Regions from separate parts of the Homo sapiens genome. Here region 2 is linked to region 1. Evidence: fine-mapped expression QTL. Tissue or cell type: whole blood. Region 1 holds a variant in brackets; the other region holds the start of a gene. All regions are shown on one strand. Distances are from middle to middle.

The links. PIP is the estimated chance that this variant, and not a neighbour inherited with it, causes the effect.
Region 2: PIGU starts here. The variant in region 1 is fine-mapped to the expression of PIGU in whole blood (INTERVAL, PIP 0.96).

Annotation. Positions count from the first base shown.
Region 1 is chr20:33,910,092-33,918,211 of GRCh38, forward strand. It overlaps the pseudogene TPM3P2. Among named protein-coding and RNA genes, the nearest start is that of RALY, 80 kb to the right of the region's middle. The variant A/T (reference allele first, on the strand shown) is at 3,785.
Region 2 is chr20:34,673,764-34,681,883 of GRCh38, forward strand. PIGU (phosphatidylinositol glycan anchor biosynthesis class U) reads right to left here and starts at 3,329. Exons shown (of 12, transcript NM_080476.5): 1 at 3,193-3,329. The coding sequence starts at 3,322. RefSeq lists enhancers at 2,797-3,683, 3,684-4,569 and silencers at 2,949-3,048, 3,289-3,398.

The DNA.
Region 1 (8,120 bases):
ACAGTTTAACCATTCCTCAATGGGGAAACATTTGGGGTTTCCAGTTTTTCATGATTATAATTAAAGCTGATATGAACATTTTCATATGTTTTTTGGTTCAACATAGGCTTTTGTTTCACTTGAGTAAATGCCAAAGAGATTTCTGGGTAGTTTGTTAAGTGTATATTTATCTTTGTAAGGAACTGCCAAGTGTTTTCCGGAGAAGTTGAACTATTTGGCCTTCCCACCAGCAATGTGTGAGAGTTCTTATTGCTTGACATCCTCACCAGTGCTGTACAGTCAGGGTTTGTTTGCTTGTTTGTTTGGGTCTTTTTTTGGAGGGACTGGTTCTTAATTTCTTTCTTTCTTTTTTTTTTTTTTTTTTTTTTTTGAGACAGGGTCTTGCTCTATCGCCCAGGCTGGAGGGCAATGGTGCAATCTCGGCTCACTGTAACCTCCGCCTCCCAGGTTTAAGCAATTCTCCTGCCTCAGCCTCCTGAGTAGCTGGGATTACAGGTATGTGCCACCATGCCTGGCCAATTTCTTTGCATTTTGTTTAGTAGAGATGGGGTTTCACCATGTTGGCCAGGCTGGTCTCAAACTCCTGGCCCCAAGTGATCCACTTGCTTTGGCCTCCCAAAGTGCAGAGATTATAGGCATGAGCGATCATGCGTGGCCTGGTTCTTTATTTCAAAAAGACACTCATCAGTCTTCAGTATCAAAACAGTTGCACTATTGATTTCTTTTTCTCCCAGTTGTCGTCAAAGAGGCATCAAAGGAGAGTACATTGTAAGCCAATAAGCTGCAGTTTGTACGCCTAACAGACCTCCTAGAAACTTTACCAAAAAGTGGGGATTAGGTAGGGAAAGAAACTTTAAAAGATCAGCAACCTGCCAGCCTACAGACTGTGGAGAGCTCTCACAGCCAGAGGGGGTAGCCAGGGTGCCAGAAACCCAAAGAAGCAAAGTTTCAAAATAATATGACATTTAAAAAGTTTTGTACACAAGCTATTCAAGATTTCTCACTGACTGATACAAAGCACAATGACATGGCACTTTTAGAGACAGCAGCTTCAAACCCAGAAAAGGGTGATGAGATGAGTTTCATGTGGCTAAATCAGTGGCAAAAACATAATCTTCTTTCTTTCAAGGAGGCAGGAGAGCAATCAAGTGGTCACCTCAATGTAAGGGGCACATGATCCACTCTGTAAGCGGCTGGGAATGGGGTGGAGATGGGACAGAAATTTGGTCTCAGAGGTCTCACCGTCTTAATTTGGTCACTTCTTTTTTTTTTTTTTTTTTGTCCCAGATGGAGTCTTGCTGTGTCGCCCAGGCTGAAGTGCAGTGGCGCGATCTTGGCTCACTGCAACCTCCGCCTCCCAGGTTCAAGTGATTCTCCTGCCTCAGCCTCCTGAATAGCTGGGACTGCAGACGCCCACCACCATGCCTGGCTAATTTTTGTATTTTTAGTAGAGACAGGGTTTCACCATGTTGGCCAGGCTGGTCTTGAACTCCTGACCTCAAGTGATCCGCCTGCCTCAGCCTCCCAAAGTGCTGGGATTACAGGCGTGAGCCACTGCGCCTGGCTTAATTTGGTCACTTCTAATGAAAAAACAAAAAAGTAAAAATAACTTTGTCCAAAGATATCTTAAAGCTGAAAACCTGAACAGCACATTTTTTGTTGCTGTTGTTTTTGGGCTAACTCCTGGAATCACCTTTCTGGTTTGGCTGGTACTTTGTGCAAAGCTATGATTTCCCAGAGTGGAGTCTTTCCCCGGGCTCTGTTTGGTTCTCAGTAAGGCAGGCTCATACCTTTTTCCCTTTTTTCTAGAGAAAGCAATATACAGTAAGCTAAACAGTCACCTTCCAAAAGGGAGAAAGGGATTAGATTGCTGCTTCAGAGCTGTGGAACTATTTGGAATGTTTTACAAATGGTTGCTATAAAACAACAAAAAAGGTAATTACTAAATGTATACAACACAACATGCTTTTAAAGACATTATGTGTTGCACTCACATTCGCTTAAATGTTGTTCCCAAAGGTGCTCAGCCTCTAGCGCAGCTGGAATCTCTGGGAAGAGGCAGAGACAGTTTGGCAAAAAAGACACGTGGGGGAGGTAGGGGTGGTGAAAGGAGAAAGCAGCCTTCCAGTTAAAGATCAACCCTCAGTTAAAGGGCAGCTTTGGGCAGGCTGGCCTAGTTGGAGTTGGGGTCAGAGGGAGGAGCAGTGGCAAGGTGGGACTGGGGTGCTCTGCATCTCATTCAGTTAAGCAGGTCTGGTCTGGCATCCTTTGTGTACAGAGGTGCTCCTCCTTGGTGCATTTCAGTTTATCTTCCAAGTCATCAATTGTCTCTTCCAGCTTGGCTACCGATCTCTCGGCAAACTCAGCCCGGGTCTCTGCCTCCTTGCGTTTATCAGTAAGAATCTCAGTTGCTTCCTCATATCTGTCTTCTTTTTGAGAGTCCTTTTCTTCGGCAGCACTCAGCCACTTCAGGTTCTGGTCCATCGATCTGATCTGCTCCTCCATCTCTCAGCCACAGGACTCTGCCAGCTCAGGTTGTTCCTCTCTGCGTCCCAAGTTTCCTTCAACAACCACCAACTTATGAGCCGAGCCCCATCTTCATGCTTCCTACCTATCTTCTGCAATGTGCTTAGCTTCTTTGAGTTGGATTTCCTGGAGTTTCATCTTTTTTTTTTTTTTTTTGAGACAGAGTCTCCCTCTGTCACCCACTGGAGTGCAGTGGTGCAATCTCAGCTCACTGCAACCTTTGCCCTCTGGGTTCAAGTGATTCTCCTGCCTCAGCCTCCCGGGTAGCTGGGATTACAGGTGCGCACCACCATACCCGACTAATTTTTGTATTTTTAGTAGTTTTACCGTGTTGGCCAGGCTGGTCTTGAACTCCTGACCTCAGGTGATCCACCCACTTCGGCCTCCCAAAGTGCTAGGATTACAGGCATGAGCCATCGCGCCCAGCCTTTTCTTCATCTTTTAAGGCTCGATTTTCAATAACCTTCCTACCTCTCCCACTCTCAATCAGCAGCTTTTACCACTTCTTCCAGCTTTTGCAGAGCAGTGGCCAGGCACGCCTGAGCACTGTCCAGCTCCTTTTCAACCAGCTGGATCCTATGGTTCAAGGAGGCCACCTTGGCCTCAGCCTGTTCCGGGCCCACCTTGCTCCCTCTACTCCCCGCTGGAGGCGCTTAGCTCTCTCCTCTGCATCATCTGCCTGCTGCTGCTGAACCTGGCTCTTGCGCTTTACTGCCTTGATGGTGGCGATCCCAGCCACGGTGCCCACCCAGCCCCTGCTTGTGCTCCAGGTCCTGCCTCTCCACTCAGCACTGCAGCCGTTTCTCCTACTGTCAGTTTCCCCCCCCCCCACATTCCAATAGGTAGCCTCAGTTTTAAAAAATCAGGTCAGTTGGGTCATGCCATTTCTTTGCTTCCACTTTCCAATGGCTCATATCATGCTTAGAATAAAACCCGAATCCTTATGTGGCCCATAGGGTTGGCCAGCTCCTGACAGTCCCCCTGGCCTCTTCTACTCTCCCACTCCAGCTATCCTGGTATCCGTGCTGTTGCTCAGACATGCCCAGATGCCCCACCTTGAAGCCAGTGACCTTGCGGCTTCCTTATCTTGAATGCTTATTCCTCAGGTTTTCCCATGGGCCACCTCCAGAAAAGGTGGCATCTCAAAGCTATCTCTGCGGAAGGGTCTTTGCTCCCCATCCTGTGGCCTGGTTTTATTTTCTTCACATCTTTCATCAACATGTGAAATTATCTTAGCTATTTATTATTTTTAAAATGT[A/T]TTGGATCTCATTAAAATGCGTGCTTTAATTGAAGTATAATATTAAGTGTATAGCTCAATGACTTTTTTTTTTTTTGAGAAAGAGAGTTTTGATTCTGTTGCCCAGGCTGAGATGCAATAGTGCAATCTCGGCTCACTGCAACCTCTGCCTCCCAGGATCAAGTGATCATCCTGCCTCAGCCTCCGAAGTAGCTGGAATTACAAGCATGTGCCACCACGCCCGGCTAATTTTTTGTATTTAGTAGAGATGGGGTTTCACCATGTTGTCAGTCTGGTTTCGAACTCCTGACATCAGGTGATCCACCTGCCTTGGCCTCCCAAAGTGCTAGGATTACAGGCGTGAGCCACCGCACCTGGCCTCTATGACTTTTTACACATGTGTGCTTGTAACCGTTCCCCATATCTGGACATAGAAGGTTCCCAGACACCCCAGAAAGCTCCCTCATGTCTCTTCTTCTCAAAGGTAGCCACTATTCTAATTTCTATTTGGTTTCTGTCATAGATGAGTTTTGCCTGCCTTTGAGCTTCATGTAAGTGGAATCGTGTAATTTGGACACTTTTTGCCTAAATTCTTTCATTCATCATTGTCTGTGAGATACAGCCACATTTTTGCATGTGGATAAATGCAACAGCAGTTTGTTCTTTTTATATTGCTGTTGCATGGAGTACTGCATAGCAATACCCCATTGCACAGCAGTGTTCCATTGTGTCAGTATAACACAATTCATTTATTCATTCTTCTGCTGGCCGACCATGGGTTGCTTCTGACTGGTTGCTGTTGAATAACACCGCTGTGAACATTTTTACACGTCTTTCCATGGAGAGATGCACTCATTTATTTTGGATATATGCCTGAGAGTAGAATTGCTAGATCATCGAGTAGGCATATGTTTATCAGCTATTTATTCTTTTACTTGTTTATATTTTTTTCTCTTCCTGGACTGTAAGTTCCATGAAGGTAGGAAACAAACTTGTCTTGTTCACTATTGTATTCCCAGTGTGTAGCACAGTGCCCAGCACATAGTAGCTGCTTAATAAATATTTGTTAAGTAAATGAACAAACTTAAGCTACTATCAGCTCCAAGTAAGTTATGACAAAGAACCCAGGACTAGCTACAAATCCTCCTGACATTCGCCCTTCGCAAGCTGATATTTGAGAGCCCAGCTGACTCAGAAGGAGGCAGAGCTGCAGGTGCTGGGTTATTCAGCATCCTGTTATTCTTTGAAGTGGCTCCCCCTCCCTCTCTTGGCCTGCATTGTCACAGCTTGAAATATTCTTTTGATTATGAGAACATTTCCCATTAAGTGTGCATCTCCAGCTTCCCCCCACCCCCCAGTATTTATGAGCTCATAACTCCAGAATCTGTCACAATCAGTGCTGCAAAAGTGTATCTGAATGTAATGAAATAATTTGATGAGAAACGTGGCGGGGAGACAGTTGGAATTTTCTCCTGCCTTACAAACCATCCCCAGGGGACAGGTGTATATAAATCAACACCTCCCTTAATTAAGTAAAACATTTTAGGGAAAAAAACAAATTAATTACCACTTCATGGCACCACCCCAGCCGATTACCCAAATGGTTCACATTCCATAAACCTCACTTGAATTCAGAACTAATTATCACTCTTTTGGTTGGTTTATGCTTCCCAATCTACAAAGATCTGTATTAAAAGTGGGTAGTGTGGTATGGCTTTTTCACTTTACTTTCAGGATGATGTAAGCTGTCAAAAGAATCAAGAATTAAGTCTTAAAAAAAAAAAAGAGCTGAAAATGCAGGGAACGTAGAATGTGGAACATTCAGGGTAGGAAATAAACATCACCTTGGGGTGTTGCTGGGATGGTGGGGAGAAGCCTATAGAGTGCAGGATGTGTGGGGTCTTGTCCTGGCTGAGTCCCTGACTTGCTGTGAAATGTTGGGCATGAACTGGACGTCTCTGGTCTCTTATCTGGGGACCATTGTCCATTACCTGCCTGGCCCCCAGGGGGAGCCCTTGCCTCCTGCCATGTGGTCCCAACAGGGAGTGAGAATCCTGACATCTCTGAGCCTCCATTGTCCAGCCTGGCCTGATGTCTTTCCTAATTATCCTTCCTGCTGGCTCTGGCCTCCCCCTTGCCCTGTGGGCCCGATCAGTTCTCATCTTTGATCCTGCAGGGCCCCGTGGCCAGGGTAGCTGCTAATAGCTTCTCCTATTCCCAGTCCGTTCAGCTGCCTTCTGAGTGGTTCACTCCCCCAGTGGAGCAGGCTGCGCAGGCCTGGCCTTGGCTCTTTTGGACTATGTGTGGGAGTGGGAGTCTCAATGGCATCAAGCACAGTTGGCCTTGGTAGCCCCCTCCAGCTGTAAGCCTTGTAAGTCCAGAGTCCAGTGCTGGCTAAGCCAAGGCCTAACCTTCCCTTGTTTCTGCCACTTGCCCCACTTGAGTGGGTGTGTACATTGTAAGCGCTCAGTCAGTTCTCAGTCACTATCTGAATGTTAACGAAAGACATGGATAACCAGAAAGAAACAATCCAACTCTTTAAAACATTTTTAAGGCATGAATTGCACATAGTACAGTGCATAAGTTATACATGTACAACTCAGTGAATCTTTACTTTGTGTACACCTGTGTAATTCCAACCCAGGTCAAGACACAGGTCATTCCACCTCCCTAAAAGTTTCCCTTCCAGTCAACGCTCCTCAAAAATAACCATTATCCTGACTTCTATCACCATAGATTGGTTTTGTCTGTTCTTGCATTTCATATAAATGGAATCATCTGGTATCTAGCTTTCTGTGTCTGGCTTGTTTTGCCCATTCACTGAGTCTATGAGATTCATTCTTATTGCGGATAGCAGTAATTATTGAACTCTTTTTTAGACTGAAGTTTTAAAAAGTGATTACTTGAGCGATTACTGATTGTTGGTATCTAGCTTGACAGTATGTTGTCCTTTTAAAAAATAACCACATACCAAGATATTTGTGGGCCTAATACTGTCATTACCATATGTACAAAAAGAATAATTTAGCTCCTGTGAGCACTCGAGTACATTCAAATTCCAAATGGAGCAGGGATGAATTTGATTAGGAAGGTGTCTGACTACAGCCCTTCCCTCTTGAGAACCTTCCAGGGCGTTTTCTTATTGCATTAACTCCCATTTGCTGAGTGCTGTGGTTTGAATATTTGTCCCCTGCAAAACTCATGTTGAAATTTAATCACCAATGTGGCAATATTGAGAGGTAGGGCCTTTAAGAGGTGATTGGGTCATGAGGGCTCTGCCCTTATGAATGGATTAATCTATTCATGGATTCATAGGTTAGTGGATTACTGGATTATCATGGGAGTAAAACTGGTGGCTTTATAAGAAGAGGAAGAGAGGGATGAGCGTGGTGGCTTGCATCTGTAATCCCAGCACTTTGAGAGGCCGAGGATAGAGGATTGCTTGAGCCCAGGAGTTTGAGACCAGCCTGGGCAGCATAGTGAGACTTCATCTCTAATTTTTTTAAAAAAGAAGAAGAAGAAGAGGAAGAAAGACTTAAGCTAGCACGCTCAGCCCCCTCACCATGTGTGATGCCCTACACTGCCTTGGGACACTGAAGAGAGTCTCCACCAGCCAGAAGCTTCTCAGTAGATGCAAGCCCTTAACCTTGGGCTACTCAGCTTCCACACTTGTAAGAAGTCAATCCCTTTTCTTTGCAAATTACTCTGTTTCAAGTACTCTGTGATAAGCAAGAGAAAACGAACTAAGACATTGGGTTGCTAGAGAGGTTTAGTATCTTTTCTTAGGGTCATTTATTACCTGTGTAACAGGTAGGTCCTGCTGGGACCCTTTCTGAGGACTCCAGGGAGGGCATGAGGAAGTTGGAGCCTGCTCCCTCCAGGTCATGTGTGAGAGGGTGGGAATAATCTGGGTACACCCTGCAGGTTGTCTCCAAAAGGGTCAGTCACCCCCAAACCCAGGGAACATCAGTGCTGGGGCAGGTGGGGGAAGAATCAGGGTCCACTGTCTCTTGGGCTAGACCCAGGCAATGTCTGTCCCCATGGAACCCTCAGCCCTAATCCCTGCCTTCAGCCCTGAGAGCTTGTTAGCAAGAGGCTCTGATCCAGCAGGTCTGGGGTGGATCCAGGAATCTGATATTTTAAAGCTCCCCAAGTGATTCCAGGGAGTGGTCTGGAGCCAGACTGCTTGCATTTGAATTCCAGCTCTGCCTGTTATCACTGTGACCTCAGCCAAGTAACTTTGCTTCTCTTGCCTTCATTTCCTCATTCGTACAATGGGGATTATAATCGTGCTGGAAGAATAAAATGAATCAATGCATTTATGCTTGAAAAGCACTTAGAAGAGTTCCTGGCACAG
Region 2 (8,120 bases), 760 kb after region 1:
ATACAGCTTGGCCGGGCGTGGTGGCTCACGCCTGTAATCCCAGCACTTTGGGAGGCCAAGGCGGGCGGATCACGAGGTCAGGAGATCAAGACCAGCCTGGCTAATATGGTGAAACCTCGTGTCTACTAAAAATACAAAAATTAGCCAGGCATGGTGGCATGTGCCTGTAGTCCCAGCTACTTGGGAGGCTGAGGCAGAAGAATCGCTTGAACCTGGGAGGCAGAGGTTGCAGTGAGCCAAGATCATGCCACTACACTCCAGCCTGGGCAACAGACTGAGACTCCATCTCAAAAACAACAACAACAAAAAAAGCTTGGCGCAGTGGCTCATGCCTGTAATCCCAGCACTTTCACAGGTCAAGGCGGGCGGCTCACCTGAGGTCAGGAGTTTAAGACCAGACTAGCCAACATGGTGAAACTTATCTCTACTAAAAATACAAAAATTAGCTGGGCATGGTGGCGGGCACCTGTAATCCCAGCTACCCAAGAGGCTGAGACGAGATAACAGCCTGAACCTGGGAGGCGGAGGTTGCAGTGAGCCGAGATCGCGCCATTGCACTCCAGCCTGGGCAACAAGAGCAAAATTCTGTCTCAAAAAAAAAAAGAATTCATACAGCTTATAAGTTGCAGAACTAGAGAAAGAGTCAAACCTTTTCTGAGATTCCAGACCCTGCACTCTTAATTACCAAACAACACTGTCTCATCTTTGGATCCTTCACCTGTCCATCCTGTAAGTAACCTCCTGTAAGTAACCAGATCCTATGCTTTCTTCTCTTCCACATTTATTCAACAGTAACTACACACCTACTGTATGCCAGACATAAAAGAATTCAGGAATGAATAAAACAGAATCCTTCAAGGAGCTCATAATATAGTGGAAAAGGCCAGGTGTGGTAGCTTATGCCTGTAATCCCAGCACTTTGAGAGACCCAGATGGGCGGATCACTTGAGCCCAGGAGTTTGAGACCAGCCTAAGCAACATGGTGAAACCCCATCTCTACAAAAAATACAAAAAAATAATAATAATAACAAGTAGGGTTGGTGGTACATGCCTGTAGTCCCAGCTACCAACTACTTGGGAGGCTGAGGAGGGAGGATGTCCTGAGCCCGAGAGGTCAAGGCTGCAGTGACCCATTATCACTGCACTCCAGCCTGAGTGTCAGAGTGAGACCCTGTCTCTTGAAGAAAAAAAAAAAAAAAAAGAGGCCAGGCATGGCGGCTCACACCTGTAATCCCAGCACTTTGGGAGGCCGAGGAAGGCAGATCACCTGAGGTCGGGAGTTCAAGACCAGCCTGACCAACATGGAGAACCCCTGTCTCTACTAAAAATACAAAATTAGCCAGGCATGGTGGTGCATGCCTGTAATCCCAGCTGCCCAGGAGGCTGAGGCAGAAGAATTGCTTGAACCCAGGGGGCGGAGGTTATGGTGAGCCGAGATCGCACCATTGCACTCCAGCTAGGGCAATGAGAGTGAAACTCCATCTCAAAAAAAAAAAAAAAAAAAAAGAGAGAGAGAGAAAATGTGGAAAAACCGGATATAAACAGGTAATTATGAGATAAGAAATGCTCTTAGTAGGGTGTAGAGGAAGAAGGGCCTAATACTGCCTCAGGTTTTCAGTTATCCAGAAGAAAACAGGAACCAAATGGCTTCGATTCATTTCAACAGAAAAATAATACGCAGAGGTAACAAATCCAAGCTCTTACAATCTCAGACATGAATTATTACTATCTTTATTACCATTCCCCAACTAGGAAACCTGGGCAAATTAACTTCTCTAAATTTCAGTTCCCTCATCTGTAAAAGGGGGAAAATAACACCATCTATCACATAGAAATAAATGTGAGGACTAAATGAGAAAAGGTATATGTTACCATTTTTAGAAACCTTAACTCTATTCATAAAACACCCATTCATTATGCCGTTCCCCATACCAACATTCTATGGGATAACATCAAAACGTTAGCCTTGGCCAGGTGCCATGGCTCACGCCTGAAATCCCAGCACTTTGGGAGGCCAAGTGAGACTGCTTGAGTCCAGGAGTTCCAGACCAGCCTGGGCAACATAGAAAGACCCTGTCTCTAAACAAAAAACAAAAACAAAAACAAAAAAACTTTAGCATTTAAAGGACACAAAGGGGACTTCTGGGGTGCTGATACTGTTTCTTGAACTAGGTGCTGGCTACATGAGTGAATACAGTTTTTAAAAATTCATTGAACTCTACACTTACTTAATATGCATTGTATGTATACTGTACTTCAGTAAAAAAAAAAAAAAAAAAGTTGTTTGTTTTTTTTTAATCATCAAACTCTGGCCTAAACCTAGCTTCCACCCCATTACTCCCCTGCTTTGGACATTTCACATCCTTGAACGTTTCTTCATCCTATTTACTTTCTGCTACCTGGAACTCTCCTTTTCTCTAATCTCCCTTTCAAAACCCTACATCCTTCAAGAGTCAGCTCAAATCCCACATTCTGGAAAACTGGAAAGGTAGGGGATAGTTTATTCAGGGTCAGAATACTAAGGAAGGAACTGGGTGGACACATAAAGTATACTTTTCATGAATTATTATAACGATTTGTCTCCCTCACTAGCCTGTGCAGCTACTTCAGGCCAACTTCGCTTTCTCGCTGTAGGCGTTAGTATAAAACAATGTTCGGTGAAGAACTTAGTAAGGAACAGTAACAAAAATTGCCCTGCAAGTCCCAGACTGAGAAGAGACGTCTAAAGCACACGCACACTCTCCTCGCTTAAGCAAAATTGGTCCCCTCATCCCGGACCCCCTCACACATAACCTTTTATCCCAGGGAGCACCCCTGGCGATCCCGCCCCAAATCCCAAACTCCTCTGCAAGCCGCGCTCCACAAGCACCTCCTCCTCTTATTCCAACCCTTCCCACAGACCACACTCCTCGGCTCAGGACACTGAATGGGACACGCCCCCTCAGATCCCCACCACTAGGTGGTCCGGCCCCCAGGGCCCAAACCTCACGACACTGTCCCCACGCCCCGGTCCCCACGCCCCCTCCCCTCACCAGCCCCGCCCTCAGGCCCCGCCCTCTCCAAGAACCCCACGAGACAGTCAGTTAGTTCTCTAGGAACCGCGCGCTGGCGGTCACTGCCCCCGCCTCCCATTCACAGAGGCCGCGGGAGGGCAGGTGGGGCCTGACAGTCTGCTCGAGCCAGTGGCCTCACCTCTCTTCCAAGAGCTCAGTGGGGACACCACCTCCACCCGCTCGGAAATGAACTCGGCCAGACTGGAGCGGAACAAGGCCGCCCGCACTGTCACAGCCACCACCAGCACCAGGACCAAGGGAGCCGCCATGATAACTGGGGCGGGCGCGCGGGCGGGGAGGGAAGGCGAGGCGGAGGAGCCTCGCGCGCTGTGCGCCACGCTCTGTAGTTCCGCGGGTGGGCGCGCGCTGCCGCTGGCGCCGGAGAGGCCAGACGTGGGGACTACGGCTCCCAGAAAGCCTTGCGGCGAGGCGGGCCGGAGCGACGGAAAGCGGGCGCCTCAAGCTGCGTATGCAGAAGGTGGGGCGAAACCTTCTACGATCGCAGGTGTTTTGTGAAGCCGCGCCGCTATAGCGGGGCTGAAACGCTGCTGAAAGTAGAAGCGGAAGTAGTCGCCTTCCTGGGATTGTGAGAGACTTTTAAACAGATGTTAAATTCACTCTTGCGTGTATGTTTTCAATGCCAAAATGTTTATTTTTATTTTTATTTTTATTTTTTTTGAGACGGAGTCTCGCTCTGTCGTCCGGCTGGAGTGCAGTGGCGCGATCTTGGCTCACTGCAACTTCCGCCTCCTGGGTAGCTGGGATGACAGGCGCCCACCACCACGCGCGGCTATTTTTTTTTTTTTTTTTTTTTTGTATTTTTAGTAGAGATGGGGTTTCACCATGTTGGCCAGGTTGGTCTCGAACTCCTGACCTCAGGTGATCCGCCCGCCTCGGCTTCCCAAAATGCTGGGATTACAGGCGTGAGCCACCGCACCCTGCCCAAAATGTTTATGTTTTTTGTTTTTGAGACAGGGTCTCAGTGCCGTCGCCCAGGCTGGAGTGCAGTGGCGCAATCTCAGCTCACTGCAGCCTGGACCTCCCGGGCTCCAGAGTAGCTGGGACCACAGGTGCGCGCCACCACACCCGGCTAAGTTTTTGTACTTTTAGTAGAGACGGGGTTTCGCCATGTTGCCCAGGCTGGTACCTTTTATGTTTTTAAAGAGTGTTAAATGTGTATTTTTTAAAAAATTTATTCTGGCAGTTGTTTGTTAAACGCCAACTATTTTCCAGGCACTATGTTAGGTTCTACAGATGCGTTTTGGAGTAGTAGACTGATTTATTAGCTAGTTCAACAAGTCGCTTAACCCTTGTGTGCTGAAAAATGTGCTGATTATAGGCTAACTAGGGACAGTTGAGGAAGGCTTAGAAATTTTTTTTTTGTTTTGGAAACGGAGTTTCGCTCTTATTGCCCGGGTTGGAGTGCAATGGCGCGATCTCAGCTCACTGCAACCTCCGACTCCCAGGTTCAAGCGATTCTCCTGCCTCAGCCTCCCGAGTAGCTGGGATTACATGCATGCGCCATCACGCCCGGCTAATTTTTTGTAATTTTAGTAGAGACAGGGTTTCTCTATGTTGGTCAGGCTGGTCTCGAACTCCAGACTTCAGGCGATCCACCTGCCTGCCTCGGCCTCCCAAAGTGCTGGGATTACAGGCTTGTGTCATCGTGCCTGGCCGGAAGGCTTAGAAATTTTGCCAGTCGCTTTTAAACACAGGCATTTTTGAAAATTAAGACATATAAACCTACAGTTAAATAACTTATATTGAAAACAACGGAATACATATTCAACACGTCACTTTCTAATTATTTTACTACACTTTTTTTTATATGTGCTTTTGAGATTATTTACCACCGCTGTATCAGTACAGCAAATACTATCTCTTTCTCTTCCCAAATGGTGGTGTTCAGTTTCCTCAGGTTGATAGATTGAAAATCCCTCCCAATGCGAGTGTTTACACCACAGGAATCAGCAAACACTACAAATCAGGGGTTTGGGGTTTGGAGAGCCCATTGATAAGCATTAAGCAGCACACTTCATTAATTAATGTATAGTAAGTGCTTAAATATTAGCAATAATAATATTAAATGTGCAAGGAAATTTCATATTTGTGAAGAAAAGGAAACAGGCTGGACGCAGTGGCTCACGCCTGTAATCCCAGCACTTTGGAAGGCCGAAGCAGCCGGATCACTTGAGGTCAGGAGTTTGAAACCAGCCTGCCCAACATGGTGAAACCTCGTCTCTATTAAAATTACAAAAATTAGCCAGGCATGGTGGCCTGTGCCTGCAGTCCCAGCTACTCAGGAGGCTGAGGCAAGAGAATCACTTGAACCTGGGAGGCGGAGGCTACAGCGAGCCAAGATAGCGCCATTGCACTCCAGCCTGGGCGACAGAGCCAGACTCTGTCTCAAAAAAAGAAAGAGAGAGAAGAAAGAAAACGAAACAGTGTATGACTGAGAATAACTGCTGGTGTAATAATAAGGGTGGTAACACTAGACAAGGTGATCAGGGAAGACTCTAGAAAGAGGTGATATTTGAGCTGAGACCTAAAGGATGAGAAATTAATCAGAGCCTCCAAGCAGAAGGAACGGACTGAGTGGGGAAAGAGCAAGGTATGTTTGAGGATCAGAAAGAAAACAAGTATGGCTCAAGTGGAGAGAATAGAAGAAGCTGTGGATGGAGAGACGGGGGGCAATCAGGTAGGGACCTATTGGCCATGCTTGAGAATTTGGGCTTTATTCAAAGTGCAATCCATATGCCATTGGAGAATTTTAAACCAGAAATGATGTGAACAGGTGTACATTTTTCAAACATCTCTATATTCCCACAAGCCCTCTATTGGGTGTTGGGGAATATTGCAGTGACAAAATGGCACCATCTGCCTTTGCCCTTATGTAACTTGGAAAGCAGTTGAAGAGATAAAATAGTTAAAGAATAACATAAGTAAAATCACAAACCATAACTCCAGCCTGGGCGACAGAGCAAGACTCCGTCTCAAAAAAAAAAAAAAAAAATCACAAACCTTAATGAGAGAAAGAAAAGGGGGAGTGGGCCAGGCGCAGTGGCTCACGCCTGTAATCTCAGCACTTTGAGAGGCCATGGCGGGAGGATTGCTTGAGCCCAGGAGTTTGAGACCAGCCTGGGCAACATGGTGAAACCTGTCTCTACAGAAAACATAAGAATTACCCAGGCATGGTGGCGCATGCCTGTAGTCTCAGCTACTGGGAAGGCTGAGGTGGGAGAATCACTTGAGCCTGGGAGGTTGAAGCTGCAGCGAGCCAAGATCACGCCGCTGCTCTCAGGCCTGTACGACAAAGCAAGACCTTGCCTCAAAAAAAAAAAAAAAGAAAAAAGAAAAAAAATGGCCGGGCGCAGTGGCTCACACCTGTAATCTCAGCACTTTGGGAGGCCGAGGCAGGCAGATCACTTGAGGTCAGGAGTTCGAGACCAGCCTGGCCAACATGGTGAAACCCCGTCTCTACTAAAAATACAAAAAATTTAGCTGGGCAAGGTGGCGGGCACCTGTAATCCCAGCTACTTGGGAGGCTGAGACAGGAGAGTCACTTCGACCCGAGGATCGGCGGTTGCAGTGAGCCGAGATTGCACCACTGCACTCCAGCCTGGGCGACAGAGCAAGACTGTCTCAAAAAAAAAGAAAAAAGAAAAAGAAAAAAATGGGAGTGGGATTCTAAAAGAATGCAAAAATAAACCCTGGGGCTGATAGCTTTCTGGACCAGTGAAAGGGGTAGGGTCTCCTTTGGGGGAGGGGATCATGAAGAAATTAGAGGGGCACTCATCCTTTGAGCCCCTGCTGTGTGCCAAGTAGTGTACCATATGCTTAACACACATGAGCTTATTTAGTCTGCACAGCCTTCCTTCTTAAAGATGTGGGTTTTTGTATCCCCTTTTACATAAAAGGAGATATATGTGTTGCATCATCTTACAGTGAAGTGTATTACATCATAAAAAGTGGAAGTAATTGTAACACTAACCTCATAGTGAATATTGAGCAAGGTTATACAATGTAAAATGCTTAGCACATACCCAGTGCTCAGTAAAGGTTACTTAGCTGTTATATTATTTACATCATTCTAACAGATGACTTAAAAATTTATCTTAGGGTGAGGATTGTCTTTGGGAAAAACAGTGATTAGCCATTGTAGACAGATGTGACCCAAACCAGTGGTTCTCAAAATGAGTGTGCATGAAGTATGAATACAACTAGTGGTTCTCAATAAAAAAACACAAGACCCAAATACAGAAGCTAGAATTATAAAACTCATAAAAGAAAACATAGGAGTAAACTTTTATGACCTTTAATTAGGCAATGGTTTCTTAGATAACAACACCAAAAGCACAGGCAACAAAAGGAGAAATAAGTAAATTGAGCTTTGTCAAAATTAAAAACTTCTGTGTTCCAAAGGACACCATCAAGAAATGAAAACTGCTGGGCACGGTGGCTCATGTCTGTAATCCCAGCACTTTGGGAGGCCGAGGTGGGCAGATCACTTGAGGTCAGGAGTTTGAGACCATCCTGGCCAACACGGTGAAACCCCGCCTCTACTAAAAATATAAAAGTTAGCCAGGAATGGTGGCGGGCACCTGCAATCCCAGCTATCGGGAGGCTGAGACGGGAGAATTGCTTGAACCCAGGAGCTAATGTTGCATTGAGCCGAGATGGTGCCACTGCACTCCAGTCTGGGCACCAGAGCAGGACTCTGTCTCAAAAAAAAAAAAAAAATTTAAAGACTGGGCGCGGTGGCTCACGCCTGTAATCCCAGCACTTTGGAAGGCCGAGGCCGGTGGATCACAAGGTCAGGAGTTCAAGACCAGCCTGGCCAAGATGGTGAAACCCCCATCTCTATTAAAAATACAAAAGTTAGCCAGTCGCAGTGGCAGGCACCCGTAATCCCAGCTACTTGGGAGGCTGAGGTGGGAGAATCGCTTCAACCTGGGGGGTGGAGGTTGCGGTGAGCTGAGATCATGCCACTGTACTCTAGCCTGGGCAACAGAGTGAGACTCCATCTCAAAGAAAAAAAAATTTAAAAAAGAGAAATGAAAACTGGCT